2 linked regions of the Homo sapiens genome follow. The protein of the gene in region 2 interacts with the protein of the main gene of each other region in a pairwise test. Each region holds a gene or a part of one and is shown on either strand. Other genes may lie near its edges. The genes, in order: FRMD6 and WDR7.

Region 1 (3,827 bases), on a different chromosome or scaffold from region 2:
GCTCAAAGGCTCCCTAACCCTGACAAAGCCTGCTGAAGATATGCACGGCCTCCAACATTCCCATTTCCAAAGTCCCACTGCACATCCTACCAGGCATATTAAAATGTACCCACATCAATATTGAATATTTGTAATATACAAAACTGAATTACAAGTAATAGTTATCTTTCATAAATTTTTTATTCTCTTTGAACCCACTCCAATAAGGTTTTCATCTCCACTTCTCCAGTGACACAGCTCTTGTCATCATCACCAATGACTCCCCAGGTTGCTAAATCCAATGAGCAACTCTCAGTCTTCACCCTGCTTGACTTCTCAGCAACATGTGAGCTAACTGATCCACTCTTCTGCTGGAGATATTTTCTTTGACTACAAGGACATTTTTCTAATTTTCTTCCTATCCTCTGCTTGCTCCTTTTTAATTTTCTTTTACTGATTCCTCCTTATCAACACAACCTCTAAAAGATGAAGCATCCAGGTTTAGCCCAAGACCATCAACGCAATTAGAAAAACAACTCATAGTTCATTCTTCCATTGTGTAGATCAATAGAGTTCACAATATCTTCTAGTGATAACATTGTTACTCAAGGAATGGAGACACTTAATTGGGTTCACTATGTTGGAAAAACGTGCATAATTACTTTGGCTTAAAACACTTCTTGGATTATGTGTGTGATTTCTTCTTCTCTCTACAAACTGTAAATACTGATATGCCCCAAGGCTTGGTCCATAAGCCTGTTTCTCTGACTACACATATTCCCCAAGTGATCTCACCCAAATTCTGTTGGCAACTTCCAAATTTGTATCTCCAACTTAGACCTCTTCCCTAAATTCCAGATTCCTACAGCAACCAGTGATTCTATTAAAATGCAAATCAAATCCTCTCACTCCTCTGCACAAAACCTGGCTCCCCATTCCACTCACAGTCAAGTCCTGAATACAGTCCACACAAGCCAAACATGTGCTCTCCAAACATCTCTAACCTTATCTACTACTCCTTCTCTCCCTGCTCTCAGTGCTCCACCACTGTGGCCTTCTCCCTGCTCCTGGAACACATCAGGCATGCTTCCGCCTGATGCCTTCACTAGTCCCTCTGCTGCAACACTTTTCCCCCAGCTAGCTCTGTGTGGCTCTCTTCCTCCTTCAAGCCCTCTTCTCAGTGAGGCCTACCTTGACTATACTCCACCAAATCGCAAAGTCCCTGCCTCCCTCCCCCAGCACTCCTACTGTCCCTTAGCCTGCTCTACTTTTTCTTTTTCCCATCAGGCTTATTACCTTCCAAAATACTACAACACTTATTTTCTTATGCTGATTGCCTCCTAATAGAATATAAGGTCCACGAAGGCAGAATTTTTTTTTTTTTTTTTTCCTTTATTTTATTCACTGACATCTCTCAGACCTAGACCAGTGCCTGGCATATCCTAGGCATACATTATATTGAATGCATGAATTTAAACATTTAATAATTTTAATTTCATAGTTGTCTTTTAATATTTGAGATTTTTACCAGATCTTGCACATTCTGTTGCTACTAGAAAAGCCCCTTTTCTATGGGCTTGAAGGATAGAAAAATCTTAGCCTGACTTCACTAACCAGTATAAATCCAGTGGCCCCAGGAAGGCTGGGAACATCCTATGTGATCATCCTTGATTTTGGACCCTAAAACGAAAGCTCAACTTCACACTCATCTGGAAACATCTAATATCTTTTCAAACACATGTATTTTGTTCCCCCAACTAGACATGAAACACATTGACAGAAATTGCACAAAGTATTCAGCACAGTCCTGAATACTTCATAAAGACATAAAACCTGGCTTTTGATGGACTTAGTGAACATTTTTAAAGTGCTAAGTTTACTAAGCTCAAGATTTTACACACACAATCAAAACGGGGAACTGGGTTATCTGGACTAGGTCCCCCGCCCTTTAACAAACAGATCAGAATGATACAGCACGATTCTTCTAGAGGATCCTGTACCTTTTTTAGCTGAGCTCGTAATTAGGCTAGTTAGATGAAAATGTATCTTTCTAAGGTGTTTAACTGTGTCTTTCTTAAGTTTCTTTGAATGAATGGTTTAAAATCTCAAACTCTGGCCCTCATAACAGAAAATCACAAATGGTTCTGACCCACATTATATAAACTGTGCCAATGGTTAGGGGTTGGGAATAAAGAACTGCTTTATATCAATAATAGTGGCTTTCTTCAGAAGTACTCACATGAAGCCATACAGGGAACATGAGCAAAAGACATGGGCCAGTCAGTGGTACTCTTTAAAAGAACTTTGCACAACATCAGTCACCGTAAGGAGAATTTTAAAAATCTGCAGGCTGGCTTTTTTGACATATGGAAAGAAACAGTTATCTAGCAGACAGAAGCTGAAGGACTGAGACGGCTGGAAATTAGAAGAGAATTAAGAAAAATAACTCGATCAATTAGTAATCAGTGCAACAGGCCAGCTGCTCCTACTGCAGCAACACAGACTTGCCAGTATCTGTAACTGAGAAATACTAGGTTTTGTTGCCTGCTTAATGCCATCAAAAAACAAAGTTAAATCTCATGAAATGCTTATAAATGAAGGCTTGGGAACCTCCAATAAAACTATAAGTCCTTTTATACATCACTTCTTTTTGTCTTAAGCAGCAATAGCTAACATCACGTAAGACGTTTATTATATATCAAAGACCATGCCATTTGTTTTACACGTACCATTTCACTTAAAAATAAGAACAATCCTGTGGGATAGCTATTATAACTATCTCCCACTTTACTGATGAGGAAAAAGAGGTGTAGAGAGTTAAGTAACTTCCCCAAGGTTACACATGGGAGAATACTGGAGTCTGGATTTGGGCCCCAGGGAACTGATCTCGAAGACCTCATTCCTATCATTATATTTTACTATCCCTCTTCTATGCTGTCTTCAATACGGATTACGCTATTCTGTAGTAATTTCATGAGCAACTTGTCAGAGCTGTGGCCCTATGGTCAGCATATTTTTTACTTGTTAACATTACATATGCTAAATTTTTGCTGTGATAAGCAGTATCTTATTCGGGTAGGATATATAAATACCACATATTTATAAAATTCTCTAATTTTAACTTCTCTTCACCTTTTTAATGAGCTTAAGCTGAAGCTCTGAGTCTTTTCTTAAGTAATAAAACTGTCCTTTATTCTTTAGGGAAACATAAAATAAAATGTATACATGAATAGTTTTCCTTTGCAAGCACTTTGTTTTATCTGTTAGATCTCTCAGTGAAATCATAATCTTATGTTTTACAATAAGTACTTCCTGGAGACTGCCACAGATTTTAGCGTCAGAATTTCACTGCTGCTCTCAGTAGACAAAGATTGGATGTTTCCAGGGATCTTTAAGAAACGATAACTGGATGGGGGTGGAAGGAAGACACAAAAAGGGAGAAAAGAGGGAGAAGCATAAAGGCAGGAGAAGTCCAAAAACTGAATTTTTGAAACATTTTCTTAAGGATGAATTATTCCAAAAATATTGACAAAGCAGTCCTTTGAAATTAGGGTCCATCCTAGATCATTTATGGATCAACAAGAGTGAATCAAGAGGGACCTCAAGAGATCTCCTACTTGATACTTACAACCCAAAGTCTCATTAGGAAGCCCTAGAAGTGAGAGAGAGAGAGAAAAAAGGGAAAAGGCAAGCCCCAACAGAGCTCTGTATGGAGGGCAGAGGTACAGCAGGCTGAAAGAAGAAAAATTCTGCCTCATTGGGCTACAGATCCATTTCCTCTGGGCAGATCTGAGTCTATCTGAACAGAGCCATAGAATACCTTTGCATTAATCAGAAAAGGGCACCCA
Region 2 (3,827 bases):
AGCCTCCCAAGTAGCTGGGACTACAGGCGTGTACCACCACACCATGCTAATTTTTTTTTTTGTAGAGATGGGGTCTCACTATGTCGCCCAGACTAAAATTTTTAATTGATAAACTATATATTTAACAAGGAAAAATTGCTACAGCAGCTGTAATAACCAATATTCTACATTTCAACACACCACAAAATACACATTTTTAATTTAAAACGTATTAGGGAGCTGATATTTAAAGAAAATGATTTTTTTTTTGGTTTTGCTTATGTATATTTTTTATACAAGTCATTATTCCTTAGGTTAATTGGACATGACTATCTAGGTTGAAGAGCAGTAAGTGGAAGTTTGAATAAAGAACAGACAGGCTAAAGATGATCTTAATTGTACATAGATATACAAATTCTATATATTCAAAATATTCATGGAAAGAACAATTCCCTTCCCCTAGCCACCCGGCCACATAAACGTGAGACGTAATGTTCAGAATGATAAAGCCATGGAAACCTAGAACATCAATTAAAAAAAAAAAAAACAAAAAAAACTCTGCTTTCAAAGCCAAAGCTTCTTTCTTACTGCTCAATATAGAGTTGAAAACCCAGTACTAAGTGCTGTTGTACTTCAACATTAAGTGGATATTAAGCACGTTTTCAGAAATCACAATAAACTTTTATTTTTATAGAGAAAAAATGTTTTATTCTTTATTTCTAGTTTCTAATGATTTAAAATGCTACATGATTTTGTGGAGGTATTGCAATGCCTTGTTCAACAAAGGAACTATTATTACTCAGCATTATTACATAACTATGTGTGCTCTTCTAAAAATATATCTGTCACTATGTTTATAATTGCATGATAGTATGTAAAATAATTTACACCATCAATATGAACTTCATCAAAAAGTCAATTTCAATACGCAATTAGCATAAGATCACTTGTACTCTTAGAAAAACGAATGTTATTTCATAGGCATATTATATGTTTTTAAACAAGCAGATTTTGAAATGTCCTTATAACTGACCATCTCAAAATGTTTTACATTTAACACAGTGCTTTGAATTGTATCAAATTTTTTAAACCTATCACAAGACAATAAATACAGTTGTAGAAGTTTTTCAATGTAACTTTCAATTATAAATGACACCTCAAGAATTTTACCTCTTTATCTTTTCGATCCAAGAGGATATGTTGTACAGGAGGAATTAAATTTTCAACTGCCTTCCCCACATCACTGCGGAATGAATCACTAGCTGGAAGGCAACTGAATATGGGAAAAATACAATATTCAATTAAAATACTGACATTAAATACTTTATAATTCCATATGACAAGGTTTGTTGGTATTGGACAAAAAGGGGATTTTTAAATTATAGTTAATTTAATGCAGGCATTAAATTAAATAATGTTATAAAAATATTGTCCTTCAAATAAAAATCCACCTAATTTTTGCACTTAGAAGTTAAATTGGAATTAAAAATCTAACTTAAGAAGTTCTGAAGTGTTTTATCAAAGTTAAATATTTATAATACATACATTTTCTTAAAGTCAGGTTGTACCCTAAATTCTGAATCTTTTACTTTTGATGACTGTCCTAATTTATTACTTGCTGCATACCTGGCAGGTAGTTTGTAAATATAACTTTGCCCATTTTCTGTCCAAATGATGACTTTATCTGATGAGACAAAGTCCCCCCCGGTCCATGTCTGTCCATTTTCACTAGGACCTGAACACAACAAGGAATAGTCTCCGGCATCGAACACCTGCAAGGAAGAAAGAAATTCACAATCTACTCCATATTGTTGTAAAAAGTAAGATCCAGTGACATTTCAAGTTTAAAAAAAAAGCCTGGAAATGTATTTAGAAAACTCAGTTTGCTGCATCAGATAAAGAAAGTTTGTCAATAAGCCCTGGGAGAGGTCACCTTCAATAGGGAAGACACAACTAGGCCCCTAGTTATGGGTAACCTCCCTGTGGACAGGGAATAGGCTATGACAAGTGGAGCGAGGGTGCTCCCCACTACAGGAACAGTTATCCTCAGACTTTCTATCTAGTGAAAGTATTCCATTAAAGAATTGCAAATAATAGGGAATCAACCTCAAATATACAGGCTTGAGCCCTGTTTTATTTCTATGTCTAGTAACAGCATTTTTTTTTTTTTCTTGAGACAAAGTCTTGCTCTGCCACCCAGGCTGAAGTGCAGTGGCACAATCAGAGCTCACTGCAACCTCAAACTCCTGGGCTCAAGTGATTCTCCTACCTCAGCCTAGCTGGGACTGTAAGAGCATGCCACCATGCCCTGCTAACTTTTTTATTTCTTATTTCTTGTAGAGACAGGGTCTCACCATGTTGCCCAGGCTGGTCTCGAACTCCTGGGCTCAAGTGATCCTCCCACCCTGGCCTCCTAAAGTGCTGGGATTACAGGCATGAGCCACCTTGCCTGGCCCAGTAGCAACATTTCTAACAATAAACTCTGGCATGGGAATAACTCATTATTATAAGGGAGTTACTTTGCTCTACATTATTTCATCAATGTTCTAAAATACTATAGTTAACAGGCTCAATTTTACTATGTAATAATTTTCACATATAAAATTCAAATCCCTATAATTTCACCAGCAGTAAAGGCTACTAACCTTATAGGGCTTTACATTTGCAAGGCACTGCAAAGTTTACAAAGTACCTTTACAATTATTATCTCATATGACCCTGAGAATCACCGCAGATGTTACTATTCCAGTTTACAGACAAGAAATGGACACAAATAAAGATTTGATCAATTGCTCAAAGTCATGTGTCCAGTAAGTGATAGAGCCAAAGCTAAAAACTCTGCTCTTATAATTCCTAGCAGAATTATTCTATCACTTTTAATATTTGAAAAAAGTACATTAAATGTTGTTAGAAAATTTTCCCAGGAGGAATGAGTAATTCCTCATTCCTCAATAGATCAGAGGTTTTATTTTACTTTTCTTTAAAGAAAACAATGAAGTTGCTTGTATACAGCCTTGAAGTTAGAACACATCCTAGCTGCATTTACCATGATTTCTTATAATATTTATCAGTGTATAACATCAGCACTACAATTATAGCCAAGAAAACTCCAAGAAAGAGTAAGGAAGGGAAACTAGCCCTCCAGCCCTATTATCTGTTAAAGCAAATCATACAACTATAAAAGTTAGAACAATATAGTATTAATTCATGAATGGGCAGACAAATCCAGAAGTCTGAAAACAGATTCCAATAATGTAGGAATATAGTATATTATCAAGGGACAACAGACGAATGAATTATTCAACAAATGGCATCAGGAACTGGGGGGGTCCATCTGACATAAAAATAAAATTGGATCTATATCTCACAATTTATACAAAATAAATTCCAGATTAAAGATTCAAAGGTATGTAAGACAAAACCATATAGGCCAGGCACGGTGGCTCATGCCTATAATCCCAGCCCTTTGGGAGGCCAAGGCAAGCTGACCACTTGATGCCAGGAGTTCAAGACCAGCCTGAGCAACAAGGTGAAACCCATCTCTACTAAAAATACAAAAATTGGTCAGGCGTGGTGGTCCATGCCTGTGATCCCAGCTACTTGGGAGGCTGAGGCAGGAGAATCCCTTGAACCTGAGAGGCAGAGGTTACAGTGAGCCGAGATTGCACCATTGCACTCCAGCCTGGGCGACAGCAAGACTCTGTCTCAAAACAAACAGACAAAATTAAAAATAAAACCATATAAAAATTAGGGGAAAATGAAAGATTTGAATCTCAGCTTATGGTAAGCCCAATTGAAAACTTCTTCATGATAATAAGTATCTTAAAAAGCCATTCTGGTGGGTTGTA

Evidence for each region.
Region 1: the proteins of WDR7 (region 2) and FRMD6 interact in a two-hybrid assay, tested with the Homo sapiens proteins (one large-scale study listed by BioGRID).

What each region holds. Positions count from the first base shown.
Region 1 is NC_000014.9:51,658,155-51,661,981, reverse strand, and holds part of FRMD6 (FERM domain-containing protein 6), read right to left. Parts: intron 1-3,827.
Region 2 is NC_000018.10:56,689,140-56,692,966, reverse strand, and holds part of WDR7 (WD repeat-containing protein 7), read right to left. Parts: intron 1,752-3,827; coding exon 1,606-1,751; intron 1,253-1,605; coding exon 1,150-1,252; intron 1-1,149.